Regions from separate parts of the Homo sapiens genome. Here all the other regions are linked to region 2. The links come from fine-mapping of genetic effects on gene expression. A gene starts in region 2. Each other region holds a variant in brackets. All regions are shown on one strand. Distances are between the middles of the regions.

Region 1 (8,181 bases), 87 kb after region 2:
ACCCACAAGGGACTCACACCATCATCATTCTAAATGGCGCTTTCCACACTGGACTTGCACCTACCTCATTCTCCATGGAATACCCTGTGTGAAATTCTGTTTGAGGAATTTCTTTGGAGAGATTCTGGTTCCTCCTCTGCCGACAGCTACTATGCATTCTCTACTCACTTCTGAATTTGTTGAAAAATATGGCCAGATGTTAGCCCTCCCTCTGAAAAAAACATGACTGAACAGGAAGACCAGAAACCACAGCTTCCTTCTGCAAAGCCACTGAAGCTGTTTACAATTTTTTAAAAGTTTAAAAAGCAGGCAGCACCCAGAAACTGTTGGCAAAATCCAAACAGTCTGCATGCACAAAAAGACACAAAGTAAACCAGCTCATTTTCCCTACTTCCCACAGCACGCGAACCCCACAAGCAGCCTCCCTGCATTTCCAGCAGAAATTCTGCAGTCAACAGAAGGACATTAATTTCAAAGTCCACCATTCTGCACATTCAAATGCCAAAGCTAAACAAGCAGACAGAAAGCACTGTGAGGGGCTACCATTTCCTGGAGACAACAGGCCGTGCTGTTGGTGAAGACCCATGGTACCTGCCTCATACGAAGGGTGGAAACACGCGACAAGGCTGTTCCAGTTACCCCATTTGCAGTGCTTGCTCAAAGGCAGCAAGATCTTTACAGAGATAACTCCATTCCCAGGTGGGGCTTGGGCAGGGCACACCGGGCTCTACGGGTCCTCAGCCTACAAGTGCCTCTACCTGCCTCCAGGACTCATGAGTTTGAGTCAGCAGCACTTTGAAATTAAACAGCGTGCCTCTGGCCAAGCTCACTTCTTCAAGGCAAATTTCCTAATCTAGAAAAGCAGAAGTTGGATCTGTTGCTGGTGAAGGCTCTTAGAACTCTGATAATTCCAGAATGGCTTGCAAATAGGGAGGGCTACTTAATTAAATATTCTGGTTGGCTGGGTGCGGTGGCTCATGTCTGTAATCCCAGCACTTTAGAAGGCTGAGGCAGGTGGATCACCTGAGGTAAGAAGTTCGACACCAGCCTGGCCAACACGGTGAAACCCCGTCTCTACTGAAAGTAGAAAAATTAGCCGGGCGTGGTGATGGGCACCTGTTATCCCAGCTACTTGGGAGGCTGAGGCAGGAGAATCGCTTGAACCTGGGAGGCAGAGGTTCCAGTAAGAAAAGATAGCACCATTGCACTCCAGCCTGGGTAACAGAGTGAGACTCCATCTCAAAAAAAAAAAAAAAAAAAAAAATCTGGTTAGAGTGACTATATTCACAGATCAATAAATAAACATAACAATTACAATATAATTTTTTAAATATTAGGTTGAACCAAATCAAAGTGCTGATTTTCAACAGTGTTTTGGCTATAAAAATGGTACTTTCATACAATTCTATTTCATTAACCTGTAACAAATAAAGTTTAATATTTCCTGATTCCAAAAAGACTGATTGCTTCAGAATAAAATTTAGTGCTTCAATTATTATTCCATATACCACAGATGTAGAAACTGTCATAAAGTTGGAAAAGCAGCATCAGAACTAGATTTGAGTCAATATCCGGTATTAACTGGACTGTCACTTTCTGTCTTTAAAAACCAGAGTAGAGTCACAATTTCAGATTGCTCCTTCCTAAAAGTTGCCTATACAGGGCAGAACCAGCTGACCCTGACCTTCAGGTAGGCTCAAAGGGAAAAAGGCAAACCAGGAGGGAGATACAGAAAGAGGTGCCACTCAGCTGAGCAGCCTCACCTCTATTTTGGCTACTGCAGGGAGGGGAAGGATTCCAGGGAAATAGACATGACTAAAAAGAAAACCCACATGCTCTGAACACTAGTCAACCCCAACCTTCCCTCACAAACACAGTGATCCCCACGGTCAGCATGAGAGAGAAAAGCCAAAGAACAAATGGGAAGAGACAGGCACAGGAACCTACATTCTAGCTAGTATACTTAGAGACACTTGAGAAGAACTGCATCCATAAAATAAGACTAGATAGCTATGAAAAAGAGAAAACGGCCGGGTGCAGTGGCTCCCGCCTGTAATCCCAGCGTTTTGGAAGGCTGAGGTGGGCAGATCACCTGAGGTTAGAAGTTTGAGACCAGACTGACCAATATGGAGAAACCCCGTCTCTACCAAAAACACAAAATTAGCTGGGCGTGATGGCGCATGCCTGTTAATCCCAGCTATTCGGGAGGCTGAAGCACGAGAATCACTTGAACCCAGGAGGCGGAGGTTGCGGTGAGGTGAGATCACGCCATTGCACTCCAGCCTGGGCAACAAGAGTGAAACTCCATCTCAAAAAAAAAAAAAAAAGAAAAAGAGAGAACAGAGAACAAGAAATATATCTTAGAAATTACAAATATGACTGCCAAAATAAAAAATTCGTAGAATAATAACAAGGACATAGCGGAGAGCCCAAAGAATGATGTGAAGGAGAACTGCGGGGTTGGCCAATGCCTGCCTGCTGCTGATGGCCACAGCTGCAAATGTTTTACAGATGAACATTTGCCACCAATTCGATAAAGGGAATCACCAACTTTGAACCCTGATTAAGCAAAATGTTAGCCCCCAAAAAGAATTCCATTCTCAGTAGTAGAACCATATTACAAAAAATTGTACTCAATTATTATACCTTGAATTTCATCAATAAAAAAATTTACGAAAATTTGCTTTCTCTCTTATATAAGTACCTACTTAATGGCCTCAATTTTGCCCCCTGGCCCACACAGCCTGAAATATTTACTGTCTGGTCCTTTACATGAAGTTTGCCAACCCTGTCTTAGAACATAAAGTGAAAAGGTAAAAAGTTTAACATGAGAAAAATTAAAGGCCACAGAAGCTGGGTCCATCGAGTCTAACAGTTTCCTAAGAGGAGAATAAGAGCAGGCAGAATCAAAGAGGGACACAAATATCAGAAGACAACAACGATGAACTCAATTTTATGGACAGAAAAAGCACAGTAACAAGTAGGCTGAATGTAAGAGACAAACCCTCAACATTTAGACTCATCTTCACAAAACTGCAGAATTTCAAGAGAATCTTAGGTTTCCAATAAGAAAATGCAAAAAAAAGTACCTGTAAAAGCAGTAAGACTCAGATCAGCATCAGATGTATCCTGATAAATGGGAATATGGTAATCCCTTTAAAATTCTGTGTGGAAATTAATTTAAATCTGGAAGTTAATTTAAAACCAAACTGTCAATCAAGGTGCAAAATAGTTATTTTCACACCTGCAGTGCCTTGGGATCTTTACACTCTAAAAACCCCCTTTTGAAAAACATACTAGAGGATCTACTCCCAGCAAAACGAGGATCATCCAAGAGAGAAAAAGATGTGGACTCCAAGAAACAGTGGAACCAACCCAGGAAGCAGAGAAAAGAAATCCCAGGGTGACAATGACAGTGTTCAGCAAGCAAACAAAGGAAAATCTGTAAGATTCCATTATGTAAACTAAGAGCCTAGAAGTTCTTGACGATAAAAACATGTTTCTTGGGCCTTGACTAAGGGCTGGCCTGGACATGCAGAGATGAAACTCCACAATGCCTACAGGTAATCATTTAATGTTTGACTGACTGCTGAATGGTGATGCCAGAAGTTATTATCAGCTGAAGAGTCTTTCCTGAACATTATAATCAGCTGAAGAGACTTTGCTGAACTGGCTACTCAGTAGAAATCCAAAAAGTCCACACTTTAGGTGTAAGGAAAACACCCAGAACTAAATTCAAAACTGATACAGAGGCCGGGTGCGGTGGCTCATGCCTGTAATCCCAGCACTTTGGGAGGCCAAGGCAGGAGGATCACCTGATGTCGGGAATTCGAGACCAGCCTGACCAGCATGGAGAAACCCCCAACTCTACTAAAAATACAAAATTAGCAGGGCGTGGTGGCACATGTCTGTAACCCCAGCTACTACGGAGACTGAGGCAGGAGGATCACTTGAACCTGGGA[G/A]GCAGAGGTTGCAGTGAGCCAAGATTGTGCCATTGCACTCCAGCCTGGGCAACAAGAGCAAAACTCTGTCTCATAAAAAAAAAAAAAAAAAAAAAAAAAAAAAAAAAAAAAACTGATACAGAGCTATCAAAATAATGACTAAACAAAGATGCACACGACAAAAAAAAAAAAAAAAAGATTTCCCAGTAATCTCACTGCCTACCATAATAAAACTGAATCTCATTCACAATAACAAGGCATTCTCTAGAAAAAGGCTGAGTAAACTCTACCACACAGGCAAGCCACCTGTTTTTGTAAATAAAGTGGGGTTTTCTTGTGTTTTGTTGTTGTTTTTGTTAGTTTTGTTTTTTGAGACGGAGTCTCACTCTGTCATCCAGGCTGGAGTCCAGTGGCACGATCTCAGCTCACTGCAACCTCCACCTCCCAAGTTCAAGCGATTCTCCCGCCTCAGGCTTCCAAGTAACTGGGATTACAGACGCGCAACACCACACCCGGCTAATTTTTGTATTTTTAGTAGAGATGGGGCTTCGCCATGTTGGCCAGGCTGGTCTCGAACTCCTGACCTCAGGTGATCCACCCTCCTCAGCCTCCCAAAGTGCTGGGATTACAGGTGTGAGCCACTGCACCCAGCCGTAAATAAAGTTTTATTAGAACATTTAAAAAAAGAAGTCTGGGCCGGGCATGGTTCTCTCACTTATAAGTGGGAGCTAAACTATGGCTACACAAAGGCACACAGAGTGATATAATGGACACTGGAGACTTAGAAAGGGAGAAAGTGGGAGGGAGGTGAGAGATGAAAAATTACCTACTGGATACAATGTACGCTTTTTGGGTGATGGGTACACTAAAAGCCCAGACTTGCAGGGTGAGGTGGCTCATGCCTGTAATCCCAGCACTTTGGGAGGCCGAGGCTGGTGGATCACTTGAGCTCAGGAGTTCGAGACCAACCTGGTCAACATGGTGAAACCCCGTCTCTACTAAAAATATAAAAATTAGCCAGGCGTGGTGGTGGGCACCTGTAATCCCAGCTACTCGAGAGGCTGAGGTAGGAGAATCGCTTGAGGTCGGGAGGCAGAGGTTGCAGTGAGCCGAGATCGCACCACTGCACTCCAGCCTGGCCAACAGAATGAGACTCCGTCTCAAAAAATAAAATAAAAGCCAGACTTCATCACTATACAATTCACCCATGTAACCAAAAACCACTTGTACCCCAAAAGCTACTGAAATTTTTTAAAATTTAATGTTTCTTTTGAAAGAAAAAAGAAAAGCAATTCATCAGAAACTCTAAAGAAAAGGCCAGGCACGGTGGCTCATGCCTGTAATCCCAGCACTTTGGGAGGCCGAGGCGGGCGGATGACGAGGTCAGGAGATGGAGACCATCCTGGCTAACACGGTGAAACCCCGTCTCTACTAAAAATACAAAAAATTAGCCGGGCACGGTGGTGGGCGCCTGTAGTCCCAGCTACTCGGGAGGCTGAGACAGGAGAATGGCGTGAACCCGGGAGGCGGAGTTTGCAGTGAACCGAGATCGCACCACTGCACTCCACTCTAGCCTGGGCAACAGAGCAAGACTCCATCTCAAAAAAAAAAAAAAAAAAAAAAAAAAAAAGCTGGTCCAAAAAAAAATAATGATCCCCACATGAAACATACTAAAATGTGGCCTAATTCTGAACGCCAACCACAGCACAGATTAATAATCTCCATTTGTTCTCATTGCTTCACATTCACCTTCCAAAGTACAGATTTTGTGGCAAAAAGCTACATCCCCTCACTTACTGTAACCACACTACTTGACATACAATTCAGACTACAATAAAGTCCTAGGTGTGCTCCACTGCTATTGGACTGTCATTGCTTCTAGGTGTTTTCCATGCAGATAGCTAAGAAATACGTGACAGCTCTAATTCAAAATGAATCTAGCAAAATTTTTCCTTAAGTTCTTTAACTTTATACTTGTATCCTTTAAATTCTTACATGAAAAAAAGGTTGCTACCTACATGGTTGATTTCACATGCCACTAATGAATCATAACCCACAGTGTGCAAAACTGTGAGAAGACAGCTTCAACAGCTGTCACAGCCACGCAAGGCAACAGCAGGAACAATGACTCCACCTTCCTTCCCTCTCTCATCCCTTCCCCTCTCCTCCCCTCCTCCTCCTCCCTGTCTCATCTTCCCCTGCCCCATTCTCCTCCTCAGCTCCTCCTCCTACTCCCCTGCCTCATCTCACTCACTCTGCAAACTGCACTTCCAAAGGCATACCCAGGGGACAGGGAGATGGTGCTTGATGCATAGTTTTATTTATTTATTATTTATTTTATTTTATTTTTTTTTTTTGAGAAAGAGCCTCGCTCTGTCGCCCAGATTGGAGTGCAGTGGCGCGATCTCAGCTCACTGCAACTCTACCTTCCGGGTTCAAGCAATTCTCCCTGTCTCAGCCTCCCGAGTAGCTGGGATTACAGGCATGTGTCACCATGCCTGGCTAATTTTTGTATTTTTAGTAGAGTCGGGGGTTTTACCATGTTGGCCAGGCTGGTCTTGAACTCCTGACCTCAGGTGATCCGCCCGCCTCGGCCTCCCAAAGTGCTGAGATTACAGGCGTGAGCCACCGTGCCAGCCTATTTATTATTTTTTTTATTTTTTAGAGACAGGGTCTTGCTCTATTACCCAGGCTGCAGTGCAGTGGCACAATCATGGCTCACTGCATTCTCTAACTCCTAGGCTCAAGCCATCCTCCCACCTCAGCCTCATGAGTAGGCTGGGACTACAGGCATGTCGCCACACCTGGCTTTGGTGCAACAGCTTTAAATCCACCTGACCTCTGCCCTTCTGACACAGCACTCGATATTCTCGACCTCATGAGCACTAAGACCACCCTCAGACAGTGAGGGAGATTCAGGCAGGCAGTGACAGCTCCCCAGAAAGCTCTTTACACAGTGGGCACTAAGCAAGTGTTTGAAATAAATACCAAGGTAATAAGACTGTATTATTACTGCTAACACAGAAAAGCATACACAAACAGGAAAGCAACGTGAAAGACTAATAACAGTTGTTTCTAGTGGGTGTGATTTTTTTCATATAATATATTTTGCTACTTTCTTCTGAGATACAAATGTATTTTTTAGTAAGAAAACTTAACAAGTTCATTTTGGAAAATACTCAAAATTTTTAGCAAATACCACTTTCACCTAATAAAAACTGTTCTCTTGAGAGGTGGGTAAAGAAAAAAAGAATAAACCTTGGTTCTACCATACAAAACAATTTGTTAACATCTACTAAAATTACAAATGCACTTATGTTTCCCAGCAAGTGCATTTTCGGGAATTAATCCTACAGATGCATTACATACATGACAGGTTAGAAAATTAATTGCTTCATTATTTTTTAAGCAAAATGACAACCTAAAAGTCCATAGGAGGGCTGCTGTTTAAATACAGTAGCCCACAGATAAAAATGCCATTCCACCCTAAAGAAGAATAAAGAAACTATATATCTATAATGAAAGAGCTCCAAAACACACTGTCAAGAAAAAATAAACCCAAAGAAGTTCTTATTCCCTTAAGAGAGAAGTAGACTGTATCAAAATAACTTTCTCACAGACCGAGATTATGAACTCTAGATAAAATGTGAAAAACAATCTTCTAAAGACACTGGAGACAAACAAGAAATAAAAAAGAAGCTTGGAATTTATATGACCCTTGAAAGAAGGGAACATCACTGGGCAAGATCCACTTTTATATTGCTTTACTCCTGAGAGTATGCCCCAGTCTCAGAGGAGTGGAGCAGAGAAAAAAAAGCTGCAATTTTATTGGCCTGACAGGTTAAAGGAGGATTTGAGACTGCTAAAGAAGCTGGAAATTGAGAGGGAAATATAGGAAAGGAGGAACCCACTAAAAAAGGAACCCAAAGTCTGAGTATAAGGTCCCCTCAAATCTTTGGCTGAACCCTGAACTGCGTAAGCGGAGGTGAGACTCCCACAAGCCCAGAAAGGACACGATAGCTTGAAGGTTGAAGGAGCAAGCTGATGGCTGGGTGCGGGAGCTCATGCCTATAATCCCAGCACTTTGGGCGGCCAAGGCAGGAAGATCACTTGAGTTCAGGAGTTTGAAACCAGCCTGGGCAACATAGTGAGACCCCATTTCTACAAAAATAAAAATTAGCCAGATAGTGCATGCCTGTAGTCCTACCTACTTGGGAGGCTAAGGTAGGAGAATTGCTTG
Region 2 (8,181 bases):
CATATCCCAGGTTACTTGCATGTGAGTCTTCTGGGCAGCTGTCTTCATTTTGGTTCAAATGTAAACTCTCCACTTTTATTAATTTTGCCTCCGTTTCTTCTTTTAGATAAACTGTAATCAAATCAATCTCCAGCCTCTCTCCTCTCTCTGGAGGTTGAGAGGTGGGGCTAAAAGTTTCAGCCCTCTAATCACATGGTTGGTTTCTCTGATAACCAGCTCCCATCTTCCAAAAGCCACTTCATTAGTGGCATAAACTCAGGTATGGTTAAAAGGGGCTTATGATGAATAACAAAAGATGTCACTATCATTCAAGAAGTTACAAGTGTTTTACAAATGCCCATCAATGATAGCCTGGATAAAGAAAATGTGGTACATATACACCATGGACTACTATGCAACCATAAAAAGGAATGAGATCATGTCCTTTGCAGGGACACAGATGGCGCTGAAAGCCATTATCCTTGGCAAACTAACACAGGAACAGAAAACCAAACACTGCATGTTCTCACTTATAGGTGGGAGCTGAACAATGAGAACACATGGACACAGGGAGGGGTACAACACACACTGGGGTCTGTCCATGGGACAGGGGGAAGGGAGAGCACCAGGATAAGTAGCCAATGCATGCAGGGCTTAATACCTAGGTGATGAGTTGATAGGTGCAGCAAACCACCACGGCACACGTTTACCTATATAACAAACCTGCACGTCCTGCACATGTATCCTGGAACTTTAAATTAAATTAAAATACACATACACAAATGAAAAACATCAGGATAGCAATTAGCTGGGGTGGAGGGATAAGAAAGAAGAGGAAACTCTCAGAAAATTGCAACAATATTGGTAATATTCTATTTCTTAAGTGGAGTAATGGGTTCACGGGTTTCTTTTCATAATTCTGCTTTGTAACTTGAGCATATTTAAATTTATATATACACTATATATATTATGTATATGTAGCAAACATTTTATAAATACAAATGATATTATCTTTATAAAATGCCTTAATGAAAACCTAAAGAAAAAAGTTACAAGGGTTTTAGAAGCTCTATGCAGAGACCACATATATATTTCTTAAGTCACAGGTGGCTTTTAGTATACTCAGTGTTGTGCAACCATCCCTATTATCCAATTCCAGGACACTTTTACCATCTCAAAAAGAAACCTCAAACCCATCAGAAGTCACTCCCTATTCTCCCCACCTCAACATCACATAGGTGACTCTATCAATTCACCTACTCTGGACATTGCAAATATAAATGGAACTATACAATATGTGGCCTCATGTGTCTAACTTCTTTCCCTTAGCATGTTTTCAAGGTTCTTTCCTCAACAAAACTCCATTAGTTTGTCTAAAGCTTTTCTTTTAACAGATCTATAAATCTGTTGTAATATTGTCTTTTGACAGACAACTTGTGAAGGATTTGGAGTAGAATTTGTGATAAATACATGGAATCTTAATTAACTGTTAACAGAAAAATCAAACTCTGTAAATTACTTAAAGAGGTTTATTCAGGGCCAATGAGTGACCACAGCCCCAGGAAAATACAAACCCAAAAAGCCTTAAGTGTTCCCGAGGCAGTCAGATTATAGTTTGGTTTTATACATTTCAGGGAGCCAGGGGTTACAGGCAAAGACATAAATCAATGTGTGGAAGGTATACACTGGTTTGGCTCCAAAAGACAGGATGTCTTGATGTGGGGGGTTTACAAGTTATATGTGGACTCAAATACATAGATATATACACGATATATGATTGATTGATAGATAGATAGATAGATCTCTTGGTAGGGGTAGATAGGGTCTCCCTATGTTGCCCAGGCTAGTCTTGAACTCTTGGCCTCAAGTGATCCTCCCACCTCAGCCAGCTTGACCAAGAGATTTTTTAATTTGCAACTGGTTAAAAGAGTGAGGCTCTGTGTAAAATTTGGAGTCAGCAGAAAAGAATGTTTAAGATAGTATGCCAGAATCAGCCACAATACACTGGGTCAAAAAAGACCTCTTCAGCAAGATTGATGGTCTGCAAGCTTGACTTAACCCTTGCCTTGCACGGCCTTAGGTCTTGTTTATAATTTGGTATCTTACTACCACAAAGTCTGTTAGTCTTATGATCTCTACTTTAACAAGGGGTGTTCAACCTCCCTTTCCAGAATGGCTGGGAACTCAGTTTTTAAGGTTTCTCTGGGGTCTCCTTGGCTAAGAGGAGGTCCGTTCAGTGCTTGGGGGGCTTACAATTTTATTTTTAGTTTACAAACACAAACAAACGTAATTATTTATTTTTATGTTTTTTGTTTTGTTTTTTGCGACAGAGTCTTGCTCTGTCAACCAGGCTGAGTGCAGTGGCAAGATCGCTGCTCACTGCAACCTCCACCTCCCGGATTCAAGCGATTCTCATGCCTCAGCCTCCCTAGTAGCTGGGACTACAGGTGCGCCCTACCACGCCCGGCTAATTTTTTTGTATTTTTAGTAGAGACGGGGTTTCGCCATGTTGGCCAAGCTGGTCTCGAACTCCTGAACTCAAGTGATCCGCCCACCGAGGCCTGGGATTACAGGCGTGAGCCACCGTGCGTAGCCAAGTAATTATTAACTCCACAGAAAATAAAAGGCTGTGCAGGAAGTAAAAATTAATCAAGTCCATATATAGACCTCAGATACATTTCGTTTGGGCTATCCTGCACTTTACTTTGTAATTAAACACCACTATTTAAAAATCAGGAAAATTGCACATAAAAATCCAGCTGCAAGTGGGCGCTCTGGAGTTCCCCAGTCTCCACTCACTCGTCCTCCCAGCCCCCACAGGCCTCAACGTCGCCTATCCCACTCCACCAGCCCAGTCTTCCACCGCCCTAGGAACTCTCCTACGCCTACGCAAGCAGGGAGGGATAGGGTGACAGCACCGACAACAAAGGGTCGTCTCCCGCACTCCGTATGAGGATGGCGTACTGGTCGGGGGGCAACCGAAGCCTTTCTTCCTAGGTTCTTTATCTTTTCTAAGTTTCCCATGACCTATCGCTCCGCTTGAGCCCTCAGCAAAGATGTCACCCGCCGAAAGGTGTGGCCGGAAGCTGGAGGCGTGGCTTCCGGACGTGCGGGGCGAGGCTCGTCTCGTTTCCGCCGGCGCTCCGAGTGACGTAGGGAAGCGCGCCGCGCACCTCATGGTTCCGGGGACAGTTAGGGCGGCGGATGGAGGTCAGCGGTGGTGCTCGCTGCGTAGGTCTTGTGGCACGGGGAGAAGGGGCGGCTGATCGTGGGTTTCGAGTGCACAACACAGGCGTGGCTGGGAAGGTCCTGGGATGCGGTGGAACTGGGGAGCAGGCTGGGACGCGGTGGGATGCCGTGGGCCTGGCCGTCTGCTCGTTCCGTGCTGGCTTGCCAGTGCGCACGCTTCCTCTCTAGCCCGCGCGGCCAGGCCTGGAAGACGCCGCCCCTGTTGACCGTCCATGACCCCAGCGAGCCAGTTTTCGTGACTTAGTGCAAGTTGTTTTCTCTCTGCATTTTAGAACTAAAGTTTTGGATTGCTGTTTGCCTAAACTCAAGTCTGGCTCCTGGGCTTCCGTTTACTCGGCTAAACTGCTCTTAGGGCTCTTAAAAAATTGGAAAGGCGGCCGGGCGCGGTGGCTCACTCCGGTAATCCCAGCACTTTGGGAGGCCGAGACGGGTGGATCACTTGAGGTCATGGTGAAACCCTGTCTCTACTAAAAATACAAAAATTAGCCAGGTGTGGTGGCGCGGGCCTGTAGTCCCAGCTATTTGGGAGGCTGAGGCAGGAGAATCGCTTGAATCCGGGAGGCTGAGGTTGCAGTGACTCGAGATCGCAGCATTGCACTCCAGTCTGGGCGACAGAGCGAGACTCCGTCTCAAAAAAATAAGTCGGAAAGATTTCTACACTGTGCTTAGGCTCAGGAAGTGGTAGATGTTGCGTTTGGGCAAATACTCCGACTCTCTGATCTCTCTCTCTTTTTTTTTTTCTTTAAGTGGAGTTAGACTAAGCTTTTTACAGCTGCTTTAATCCCCTCATATAAAAAGAAAATGTGCTGGCCATATACCAAGTTCCAGGAAGTGGAGAAAGATCAAACGTACATTCTGCTTTGGCAGAAATGAGGCCTAGGTGAACGTTTTATCTTGCCCTTGTCGCATGTCTTCCCTGGATCATGTAATCACCGTAGGGAGCTAGACTAGCTGATAGAATTTTTTTTCTTTTTTTTTTTTTTTGTGACAGAGTCTCGCTCTGCCACCCAGGCTGGAGTGCAGTGGCGCGATCTCGGCTCACTTCAAGCTCTGCCTCACCCTCCCTAGTAGCTGGGACTACAGGTGCCCGCCACCACGCCCGGCTAATTTTTTTGTATTTTTAGTAGAGACGGTGTTTCACCGTGTTAGCCAGGATGGTCTCGATCTCCTGACCTCGTGATCTGCCCGCCTCAGCCTCCCAAAGTACTGGGATTACAGGCGTGAGCCACTGCGCCTGGCCGATAGAATTGTTAAAAGCAACATCAAGGCTATATGTAACACATTGCTGGAGATGGCAACATTGAGTTTGGCCTTGGAAGGATGAGATGTATTTTAAAGGGTCTTATAGGGGGAGGAGGAGACCCAGATAACAAGCCCTGTAAGGTGAAGTGGAAGTGCAAGGCCTGTTTAAAATGGGGCCTTGTGTTGCTGGGAGGCAGAAAAAGCTAAGACTGAGAAAATCATTCTGGGCCATGTTATGAAGTGCTTCTTATTATTGGTTCAGAATTTTTGCTGTTAGAAATTTGGTGGGGGGGTTTTAGTAGGCTAGTGATGTAATCTACCTTGGTTTCGAGAGGCTCACACCTATGTCTACAGTGTTAAAATATATCCACAGAGGCTTTGGGAATGTGAATTTTTTTTTTTTTTTTTTTTTGAGATGGAGTCTCTCACCCAGGCTGGAGTCCAGTGGTGCAATCTCAGCTCACTGCAATCTCCGCCTCTCAGGTTCAAGCAATTCTTGTGCCTTAGCCTCCCAAGTAGCTGGGATTACAGGCGTGCACCATGATGCCCAGCTAATTTTTATATTTTTAGTAAAGATGGGGTTTCACCATGTTGGCCAGGCTGGTCTCAAACTCCTGACCTCAAGTGATCCACCCGCCTAGGCCTCCCAAAGTGCTGGGATTACAGGCGTGAGCCACCACGCCTGGCCAAGCCCGTAATTTTTAATCCTGGTTACCCTTGAAATAAAAAAATAAAAAAAAATTAATGCTGTCTAGGTCGTGTCTGCAGAGATGCCATCATTTAGGAGGCCTTGGGCAGGACCTGGGAATCTGAATTATTGAACCACATCCTAGGTGATTTCAAATTACAAGCAGGATGGAAACCCTCCCACCCAGGCTGTAATGTTCCTGAGTTTTGATATTTGATGGCATTCTGTACTGAAACAAAAATCCTGTGAGACTTTTGCTTTAGAAAATACTATCACATACCTATGGATTGTCAAGAAAGACTTAGTCTGATTTTACAGATAGAGTGGCTTTGACTATTTCATTTCTCAAGTTTGTGAGTCAGGAACTGCCCCTGTAGTAGCCCCTTCTCTCTCCTTTTTCTCTTCAGGGTTTGGAATCACTTGCTAGGAGTCTTGTCTCTCTGCCACCCAGGACATCATGGCAGCTCACCTGGTAAAGCGATGCACGTGCCTCCTGAGAGAAGCTGCTCGTCAGGCCCCTGCCATGGCTCCAGTTGGCCGACTGAGACTTGCCTGGGTAGCCCATAAGACTCTGACTTCCTCAGCCACCTCACCCATTTCCCACCTCCCAGGTTCCTTGATGGAGCCGGTGGAGAAGGAACGAGCATCTACTCCCTACATAGAGAAGCAGGTGGACCACCTCATCAAGAAGGCCACAAGGCCAGAGGAGCTCCTGGAGCTACTTGGTGGCAGTCACGACTTGGACAGCAATCAAGCAGCAATGGTACTTATCCGGCTCTCTCACTTGCTGTCTGAGAAGCCAGAAGATAAAGGCTTGCTCATACAGGATGCCCACTTTCATCAACTTCTCTGTCTGCTCAACAGTCAGGTGGGTGCCGGAGTGTGGTCTGAGAGCATAGACAAGAGGAAAACAGCCAGAAATGCTGGGGTCCACAGCAGCCAGTGCTTACCAAGCATAGACAGGGGCCTTGCATCTCTTGTGATATTTTTTATTTTTTTATAAATTTCAAAGTGCTTTATCGTGCTTTCTCTTTGTTTATCCTTACAAGAGGCCTGTTAGGTAAATATTGCTATGCTCGTCTTACAGACAGCCAAGACGCATAGTGATAGAAGCATGGGAAGTGAGCCTGGTTCTTCTCAGTTCTTTGGGTGCTTTCCCCCTCACCATATAGTCTTGACTTGTATTGCTCTCTGCCAGTGTCTGGCTGATGGCAAGGCACTGTTTTTGAAGCCAAAGGAGATGCAGCATGACTGATGGAAGGTCCTTGAAACTTGAGACAGACGTGGGCATGATCTAGCCATGTTCAGACCCTCCAAGGATGACCATGGAGAGAAGCAACAAGACCCATTTGTGTGGCACTGAGCAGGGCAGAACTCAGACTACAGAAGCCAGTTCCTGCTCACTGTGAGGGACTCCCTTCTTAGAGAGTCTTCCCCTGGGCTCCATGTACAAAAAAAGGAGTACAGACTCCTGCTGTGGCTGAACTGGCCCTAAATCCCTGGTCTGCTTTGGAAGGGAAGTGCTGGGGCACTGAAACCATGTTTCCAGTTGTCAGGTGTAATGAAGAGAAAGGCACTATCCAAGGAAGGAGTTGCACTAACTGAGTGCTTTTCAAACTGCAGGTTATAAAATCAGTGTAGTGGGATGTGGCCAGCTGATTCTTAATGAGGTAGAGTAGTATAAAAAATACCAGAATTCATCACATATAGTAAGGGGATTCACTAATGTCTCATGGAACTTTTGTTCTAGTTAAGGATGTATATATATGCCTGTGTTGTGTGGACTGGGGTTACAGTACATAATTATTTCTTGCTGGGGATATAATTCATAAAATGAACTTAGTTAGGCCCCCTTGTTATTTGGCTACAATTCTAATTGCTGTTTATTGACTCTTTTTACTCACATGTGATTTAAGAAAGTCTTATGATGCAAGACTGAACATTGTAACAAAATTATAAGGCAAGTATCTGTAATGTAATAACAGCTTTCTTTTCAAAGATTTTCCTGCTGTCCATGAAACCGGAAGGTAGACACCCAGATCTTCTGTAAGATTAGAATTTACTCCAGTACTTTCTCCCTCCTCCCCAGCCCTTCAGACAGCAGCTTCTCTGTTCGCAGCTCACTTCCTTGAAGGTGTGGTTTCTGCTTCTCATTCATAAGCGCAGAGACTGAACCTGAGGGTTCAGTGTTGAGAGACTTGGCCCAGGAAAGGACAGAGCCATACTTGTTTTACCATCTGCTCTCTTCTGCAAGGCTGGATTCAGGGCCAAAGGGCTCTAGAGCCACCCATGTTGACACTGTGGGCCCTGTGGACACAGTACCTGAATAGCAGTTACCCTCTTCAGAAACAAAGCAGGCACCAGCAGAGAGGACGGGCTGTGGTGCAGGTTCCGGACCCAGAACTATGTAGAAATAAGTTCACCTTCGTTTACCTGTATAGTGGGACTGATGGTTCTCATAGGATGTTGGTGTCTCATGGGGGTACGCACACAGAAGGATGCCTGGCATTTAGTAAGAGCCTGTTCAGAGGTGCTGCTGGTAGCAGCAGCAGCTTGGTCATCCCTAGGAGGCCTCTGCATTTGGGAGTGGGCAGGGCTTAGTGATACCGGGGGTCTTTTTACCCATATGTCAAAAGCGTTCCTGCAAACCTTTGTGCCTGGGGTGCTCCTCCCTTTGCAGGCAGTTGAGGGTCTGGCATGCTTGGGTGCCGCGTCCCTGGAGGGTAAAGGTGGTGGTTCACTGCCTAACGCACTGCAGGGACTCCTGCTTATTGCAGCAGTTGCATTCCTAAGAAACTTTCACGTTGCCAGAAACTGCGAGATTGGTTTGTTAGAGAACAGTTTAGGGGTTGGAGCTTCTCTGACTCAAAAACAAATTATTTTCCTGGAGAAAAGCCAGTGTGTTTTGTTTTGTTGTTTGAGACAGAGTCTCACTCTGTCACCCAGGCTGGAGTGCAGTGGCACAATCTCAGCTCACTGCAGCCTCCACCTTCCAGGTTCAAGTGATCTTCCCACCTCAGCCT
Region 3 (8,181 bases), 100 kb after region 2:
CAACAGAGTAAGACACCATCTCAAAAAAAGTAATAATAATTAAAATAAATAAAAATACAAATAAGAGACCAGAGCCAGCTTAAAGTGCTTCCCACTGGCTGAGTTTGGGACAATTTGAGCTTCAAAATAAATAAGGATACTAGAGAACTACAGTCTTGTAAGTAAAATAAGAATAAATAAGAACTTTAAAATGAAGAAACTTGGCAAGACTATCTTAACCAAGTAACCACAGTTAACATCACCAACATGGGACAAATCGACATTATTTTCCCTGATATGATGCAATGAGAAGAATACATCATCTGTGTGGCAGTCCTATCAAAAACACATAAACTCATGAGGAAAAAACAGACCCAACTGAGAGACATCCTACTAACTGATCTGTAATCTTCAAAAATATCAATCATCAGAGACAAGAAAAGACTAGGAACCATTTCAAGTTCAAAGAGCCTAAAGAGACATGCAAACCAAATGCAACACATGATCCTGAATCTATAAAATCTATGGATCCTAGAGCTATATAAAGAAAGTATCATAACAATCAGCAAGTCTGGGTGGGGTCATGAATTACGTAGCAAGATCAAATGGATGTCAATTTCCTGATTTTAATGATGTCAGAATGGTGTGGTTAGAGTGTCCTTGTACCAAGGAAGGTACAGTTGAAGTGTTAAAGGGTCATGGGGCATTATGTCTACAGCTTATTCTTAATGGTTCAGAAATGTTAACACTTGAGGGATCTGGGTGGAAGGCGTATGAGGGCTCTGTGTACTCTGTATATACTCTGTGTGCTTTAAGTCTACTACGTATATATAATTAAATCATTTCAATATAAAAAGGTGAAAAGTCGATTGTTTAAAGCAAAAAAAAAATCTAATGTAAGATTTATAACACGTATAGAAAGAAAATATATGCCAAAAAGTTTGCAAAAAACAGGAGGGAGTACAAATGGAATGATACTGCTGATAGGTTCTTACAGTGTACAAGAAAGAAATGATATTAATGGATGGTAATCTGTGACAAGACATGGATATATATAGCAATATATAGAGGAGTTACAGCAAAAAAGCCAGTAGCAATAGAACAGAGTTAAAAATAATCAAAAAGGAGAAACAAAGGAAGAAAGCACAAAGGGAAAGAGAAAACAAATATCAAAATGATAGACTTAAACATAATGACATCAATTATGTAAACTTCACAATTAAAAGGCAGAAACTATCAGACTAGATAAAAAAGCAAGCTGTAACAAAATGCTCTTTATAAAGCATGCAGTTTAAAACTCCAGACTTGTTGAAAGACACACACCATGCAAACATGCAGCATAAGAAAGTGGGGTAGCCAGGTGTGGCTGGCTCAAGGCCGTAACCCCAGCTTCTCGGGAGGCTGAAGAGGATCACTGAGGCCAGGAGTTTGAGACGACCTGGGCAACATAGTGAGACCCCATCTCTAAAAAAAAAAAAATTAGCCAGGCATGGTGGCGCACACCTGTACTCCCAGCTACCTGGGAGGCTGAGGCAGAAGATCACTTGAGCCCAGGAGTTCAAGGCTGCAGTGAGTTATGATCATACTACTGCTCTCCAGCCTCGGCGACAGAGCGAGACTCTTCGGCAGTTGCTAAAGTCCCTAAGGCAAAAAAAGAATGTGGTGTAGCTATATTAATATCAGACAAGAGATTGGGACAAGAAGTCTTACTAGAAATAAAGATGGTCATGTCATAATGAAAAAGATTCATTTCAACAAGACATTATGGGCTGGGAGCAGTGGCTCACACCTGTAATCCCAGCACTTTGGGAGGCCGAGGCGGGTGGATCACCTGAGGTCAGGAGTTCAAGACCAGGCTGGCTAACATGGCAAAACCCCGTCTCTACTAAAAATACAAAAATTACCTGGGCATGGTGGTGCATGCCTGTAATTCCAGCTACTCAGAAGGCTGAGACAGGAGAATCACTTGAACCCAGGAGGTGGAGGTTGCAGTTAGCCAAGATCGTAGCACTACACTGCAGCCTGGGTAAGAGAGAAAGACTACCATCTCAAAAAAAAAAAAAAAAAAAAGATATTATGATCCTAAATGTGTATGTACTTAACAACAGAGCTTCAAAATACATGAAGCCAAAACTAACTAAAGGGAAAAACAAATCCAAAATAATAACTAGAGAACTTAACACCCTCTCTCTCAATAACTGACAGGATTAGCTGGATGCAGTGGCTCATGCCTGTAATCCCAGCACTTTGGGAGGCCAAGGTGGCTTTAGGCCAGGTGTCCAAGACCACCCTGGACAACATACTAAAATACTGATACTCTACAAAAACTTTTTAAAAAGTTAGCCAGGGCAGGGCACGATGGCTTACACCTATAATCTCAGCACTTTTAGAGAGGCCAAGGCAGGCAGATCACTTGAGATCAAGAATTTGAGATCATCCTGGCCAACATATTGAAACCTCACCTCTACTAAAAATACAAAAATTAGCCAGGCATAGTGGTGGGCACCAGTAATCTCAGCTACTTGGGAGGCTGAGGTAGGAGAATTGATTGAAACCAGGAGGCAGAGGTTGCAGTGAGCCAAGATCACGCCACTGCACCCCAGCCTGGGCAACAGAGTGAGACTCCATCTCAGTAAATAAATAAATAAATAAAGCAACCATTAAAAAATAAAACATAAAAATAAAAATTTTTAAAAATTAGCCCAGCTGGGTACAGTGGCTCACACCTATAATCCCAGCACTTTGGGAGGCCAAGGCAGCTGGATCACCTGAGGTCAGGAGTTCGAGAGGAGCCCGGCCAACATGGTGAAACCCCATCTCTACTAAAAATACAAAAATTAGCCGGGTGTGGTGGCGGGCACCTGTAATCCCAGCTACCAGGGAGGCTGAGGCATGAGAATAACTAGAACTTGGGAGGCAGAGGCTGCAGTGAGCTGAGATCGCACCATTGCACTCCAACCTGGGCAACAAGAGTGAGACTCCGTCTCAAAAAAAAAAAAAATTTAGCTGGGCATAGTGGCACACACCTATCGTCCTAACTACTTGGGAGGTTGAGGCATGAGAACTGCAGGAGTTTGAGGTTATACTGAGCTCTGATTGCACCACTACACTCCAGCCTGGGTTACAGAATGAGACCCTGTCTCTGGAAAGAGAAAAAAACAAAGAATTAGGAGACAAAAATTTAGCAGAAAGTTTGGCAGTGTCTTATAAAGTTAAACATATAGTTCCCATAAAATTCAGCAATTCCATTATTAGGTATTTACCCAAAATAAATGAAAACATGTTCACATAATGACTCATTCACAAATGTTCACAGCAGCTTTTTCAAAATACAAAGTAGACTGGGAGGCCGTGGCAAGTGTATCACCTGAGGTCAGGGGTTCGAGACCAGCCTGGCCAACATGGTGAAACCCCATCTCTACTAAAAATACAAAAATTAGCCAGGCATCGTGGCGGGCACCTATAATCCCACCTACTCAGGAGGCTGAGGCAGGAGAATCACTTGAACCCAGGAGGCAGAGGTTACAGTGAGCTGAGATCACACCATTGCATTCCAGTCTGTGCGACAAGAGCAAAACTCCATCTCAAAAAAATATATATATATATACACAAACTAGAAAGAAACTAAATCTCCAACAAATGAATAAACAAATCACAGCATAAACATACAACAAAATATTACTCAGCAACTGAAACATGCAGCAATATATGGATAAATCTCAAAAACATTATGCTGAGTACAGTGATCCCTGCACAACACAATGTATACTGTATGAATCCATCTGTATGAAGTTCTAGAATGAACAAAATTAACCTATGGTGGAAAAAAATCAGAACAGTACTACCTTGGGGGAAGGACTTTCTAAGGGGCATAAGGGAATTTTCTCAGTGATGGTAGGTAATATTTTATTTCTTAGTAGGGGTTTCAGTTACGTAGGAGTATGCATTTGTCAAAATTTAGCTAATATTCACTGAAGATGTGTATTATTTGGCCAGGAGCAGTGGCTCACGCCTGTAATACCAACACTTTGGCAGGCCGAGACAGAAGGATTGCTTAAGCCCAGGAATTCAAGACCAGCCTGGGCAACACAGTGAGACCTCGTCTCTACAAAAAATAAAAAAAATTAGCTGGGCATGGTGACAAACCCATTTAGTCCTAGCTACTGAGGAGACTGGGGCGGGAGGATCACTTGAGTCTGGGAAGTCAAGGCTGCAGTGTGCCATGATTGCACCACGGCACTCCAGCCTCTGTGACAGAGTGAGACCCTGTTTAAAAAAAAAAAAAAAGTGTGTATTTCATTGTTACATAATTTTACATCAAAAGAAAACTGTAAGCAAATATTGAACCCTAGTTAATGACATGCATGCTAATGTATTTAGATCAAAGTGAAACAATGTCTGCAATTTATTGAGGAATGCATCAGAAAAATAAAATGAGTTGATGGGCAGGTACAGTGATAAACAAATGCTAGATATGGGATAAAACAAGTATAGCCAGGCCAGGCAGGGTGGCTCATGAGTGTAATCCCAGCACTTTGGGAGGCCGAGGTGGGCGGATCATCTGAGGTCAGGAGTTCTAGACCAGCCCCACCAACATGGTGAAACCCTATCTCTACTAAATACAAAAACTTAGCCAGGCGTGATGGCACATGCCTGTAATCCCAGCTGCTGGGGAGGCTGAGGCAGGAGAATCGCTTGAACAAAGGAGGCGGAGGTTGCAATGAGCCGAAATCACGCCATTGCACTCCATCCTAGGTGACAGAGTGAGACTCCGTCTCAAAAAAAAAAAAAAAAAAAACAAGTATAGCCAACGTTAGTGGCAGAATCTAGGTGCAAGTATTCACTGCAAAATTCTTTCAACTTTGGTGTACTCAAAAATTTT[T/CT]TTTTTTTTTTTTTTTTTGAGACAGAGGCTCCCTCTGTCGCCCAGGCTGGAGTGCAATGGCGCAATCTTGGCTCACAGCAACCTCTGCCTCCCGGGTTCAAGCGATTCTCCTGCCTCAGCCTCTGGAGTAGCTGGGATTACAGGCACACACCACCATGCCCTGCTTATTTTTGTATTTTTGTAGAGATAGCATTTCGCCATGTTGGCCAGGCTGGTCTTGAACTTCTGATCTCAGGTGATCTGCCTGCCTTGGCCTTCTAAAGTGCTGGGATTAGAGGCGTGAGCACCGTGCCTGTCCCAAAAATTTTCATCATAAAATGCTGAGGGTGGAAGAATGTGCTGGAAAAAGCAAACACGGAGGCTGCACATACCTCTTTCAAGAAAGACGGACAATACTAAGTGAGAGGGGGAGCCTTAGAAAGGAACTTGAACTCAGCCTGATATTAGAAGTGCACAGGCAGGTGGGCTATGGTTATTGTCTATACCCAGTAGCATGAAAAGTAAAAGCTATGTAAAGGTGATGTATCTAATGGCAGTAATAAATTAGCTAGACATAATCATATCTAGGGCATTTTCAGACATCTGACAGAAAATCAACATGCACCATAACTGACACTTAGACCTGACCAAGGCATCTCATTAAGAACATGTACCCTTGGCCGGGTGCGGTGGCTCACGCCTGTAATCCCAGTACTTTGGGAGGCCGAGGTAGGTGGATCACCTGAGGTTGGGAGTTTGAGACCAGTCTGACCCACATGGAGAAACCCCGTCTCTACTAAAAATACAAAATTAGCCGGACTTGGTGGCGCATGCCTGTAATCCCAGCTACTTGGGAAGGCTGAGGCAGGAGAATCGCTTGAACCTGGGAGGTAGAGGTTGTGGTGAGCCGAGATCGCGCCACTGCACTCCAGCCTGGGCAAGAGCAAAACTGTCTCAAAAAAAAAAAAAAAAAAAAAAAAAAAGAACATGTACCCTTGGCCAGGCACGGTGGCACACAGAGGCACACATTGGTCAGGACTTCGGGAGGACGAGGCGGGTGGATCATGAGGTCAAGAGATCAAGACCATTCTTGCCAACATGGGGAAACCCCATCTCTACCAAAAATAAAAAAATTAGCCGGGCATGGGAACACGCACCTATAGTCCCAGCTACTTGGGAGGCTGAGGCAGAATTGCTTGAACCCAGGAGGCGGAGCCTGCAGTGAGCTGAGGTCATGCAACTGCACTCCAGCCTGGGCAGCAGAGCAAGACTCCACCTCAAAAAAAAAAAAAAAAAAAAATGTACCCCACCACATAAACCAACAAGGGAAACATTTCAGTTTCCACACCTGACCAGAGAGCTCATGGTGACAACACACAGGAAGCAAATTTGATTTTTTGAAAAAAACCTGTATGGAATTTTAAACTATAGAATAGACATAAAGATTTAAATAAAGGCTTCTCTCTTTTTTTTCTCCAAGGTACAAAAACAACATGTGAAATGGTTATCTCCCACTCCTCAACTAGGTTTCCCTTAAGAACAGTGACACCACGGGTTTAGGCTGACCAGTCTTCTCACTTTCAGAAAAGTGAAAAACCTCCTTGGGTTACAAGACACACCATCATCCTAAGCTGCAAACAAAAGCCCAAATTCCATGTTCCTATTATGCTTATTAAAGGGGATCACTTTCATTGCACATACATCTAATGCCTATGGTCAAATGCCCTAATTCTTAACATAATCCAAGCAAAAAATTGTTACTGTTTGGGCACACTTGGGAGAAAAAAAAAGGTCACATTTTTGGCACAGACACAAGGCTAAGGAAAAAAGTTCTTATTTTTACAAAACAAACAAACAAAAAATCCTAATGGTTCCATTGACAAATCCAAATGTAAACTCCCTCATACCTGTAGAATCATTTGAAGAGCAGTTGCTGTTCTTGATTGAAAGATAAAAAAGCCAAGGAGTGCGAAGCGCGCTAACAAAGATCCACTGTTCACAAGGACACAGCGATGCATGCAGAGGACATGGCTGGGCTCACTGCTCCCGCCACAGATCCCAGAGCACAAAGCCTGTCCCAGATGAAATGAATGACATCCCTGACTGTGCCAGCTCCCAAAACACCATACATGTTCTCCCAACCACAAAGAGTGTGCTGTGATTTATGGTTTACATACAGCACAGTGAGGGTTGTCCTGTCACTCTGAGCAGCTCGTCCGTGGCCATGTTGACAGTGTAGACTTGGTCCTCAGAACTCACCCCAGAGACCCTAAGGCAGCCAGCAGATGAGGCCAGAATGACCAGCAACATAAGGCTTGTTACTCTTCTGTCTTGATGAGTTACTACTGCACTTCTATCTACAAACTGAACTCTAGGGTTTGCTTCAAAATCACCTGGTGCATTAGCCTTCTTGGGCTGCCAGGACTAAGTATTATAGACTTGAGTGGCTTCAATAATAGAAACTTATTCTCTTAGAGTCTAGATGCTGAAAGTCCAAGATCAAGGTAAATTTAGCAGGGTGGTTTCTCCTGAGGTCTCTCCTTGGCTTGCAGATGGCTGCCTTCTCCATGAGTCCTCCAATGATCATTCCTCTCTGTGTCCTAATAACTTCCTATAAGGACATCCATCAGATTGGATTAGGGCCCACACAATTACCTCATTTTACCTCAATCACCTCCTTAAAGACTCCATCTTCAGGCCAGGCATGGTGGCTCAAGCCTATAATCCCAGCACTTTGGGAGGCCGAGGTGGGTGGATCACGGAGTCAGGAGATTGAGACCATCCTGGCTAATACGGTGAAACCCCATCTCTACCAAAAATACAAAAAAATTAGCCAGGTGTGGTGGCGGGCACCTGTAGTCCTAGCTACTCAGGAGGCCGAGGCAGGAGAATGGCGGGAACCTGGGAGGCGGAGCTTGCAGCGAGCCAAGATTGCACCACTGCACTCCAGCCTGGGTGACAGAGCAACAAGACTCCGTCTAAAATAAAAACAAATAAAAAAAAAAAGACTCCATCTTCAAATACAGTCACATCCTGAGGTCCTGGAAGTAGGGGCTTCAGCACATGACTCTGAGGGGACACTATTCGGCCCACACAGGCAGGAAGCAGGAATGAGGAGAAGGTGCACATGAAACTGACTGCCCACACATGGGCACAGGGGACTTCGTTACATGATTTTTTTTCTTTACATTTGCTTTTGAAGTTTTCATAAAGGTGTTCCTGATCACTCTTACCAAAGCCTGCTCCCACCATCCATCCCCGGGCTCCACTTCCTGCTCTGCAGCCACAGGCTCACCGTACACATTTCAGTCTCCAGCATCTGTGTCTGACACCATTGGTGC

Alleles and levels. Positions count from the first base shown, and alleles are read on the strand shown. Sizes are in standard deviations (SD) of each study's normalised expression. Not every link is listed here.
In carriers of allele CT in region 3, the expression in monocytes of the gene that starts at base 3,156 in region 2 tends to be lower than with T alone (moderate effect, 0.51 SD a copy in Fairfax 2014).

What was found. PIP is the estimated chance that this variant, and not a neighbour inherited with it, causes the effect.
Region 1: its variant is fine-mapped to the expression of TBRG4 in whole blood (INTERVAL, PIP 0.97).
Region 3: its variant is fine-mapped to the expression of TBRG4 in monocytes (Fairfax 2014, PIP 0.92).

Annotation. Positions count from the first base shown.
Region 1 is chr7:45,019,681-45,027,861 of GRCh38, reverse strand. All of the region lies in intron 1 of CCM2 (CCM2 scaffold protein), which reads right to left. Among named protein-coding and RNA genes, the nearest start is that of CCM2, 24 kb to the right of the region's middle. RefSeq lists an enhancer at 256-305 and a silencer at 696-765. The variant G/A (reference allele first, on the strand shown) is at 3,963.
Region 2 is chr7:45,106,672-45,114,852 of GRCh38, reverse strand. It overlaps TBRG4 (transforming growth factor beta regulator 4), which reads left to right and starts at 3,156. Exons shown (of 11, transcript NM_004749.4): 1 at 3,156-3,210; 2 at 5,566-6,026. The coding sequence starts at 5,616. RefSeq lists enhancers at 2,629-3,384, 2,748-3,457.
Region 3 is chr7:45,005,999-45,014,179 of GRCh38, reverse strand. The region is part of intron 1 of CCM2 (CCM2 scaffold protein); the gene reads right to left. Among named protein-coding and RNA genes, the nearest start is that of CCM2, 9.9 kb to the right of the region's middle. The variant T/CT (reference allele first, on the strand shown) is at 4,862.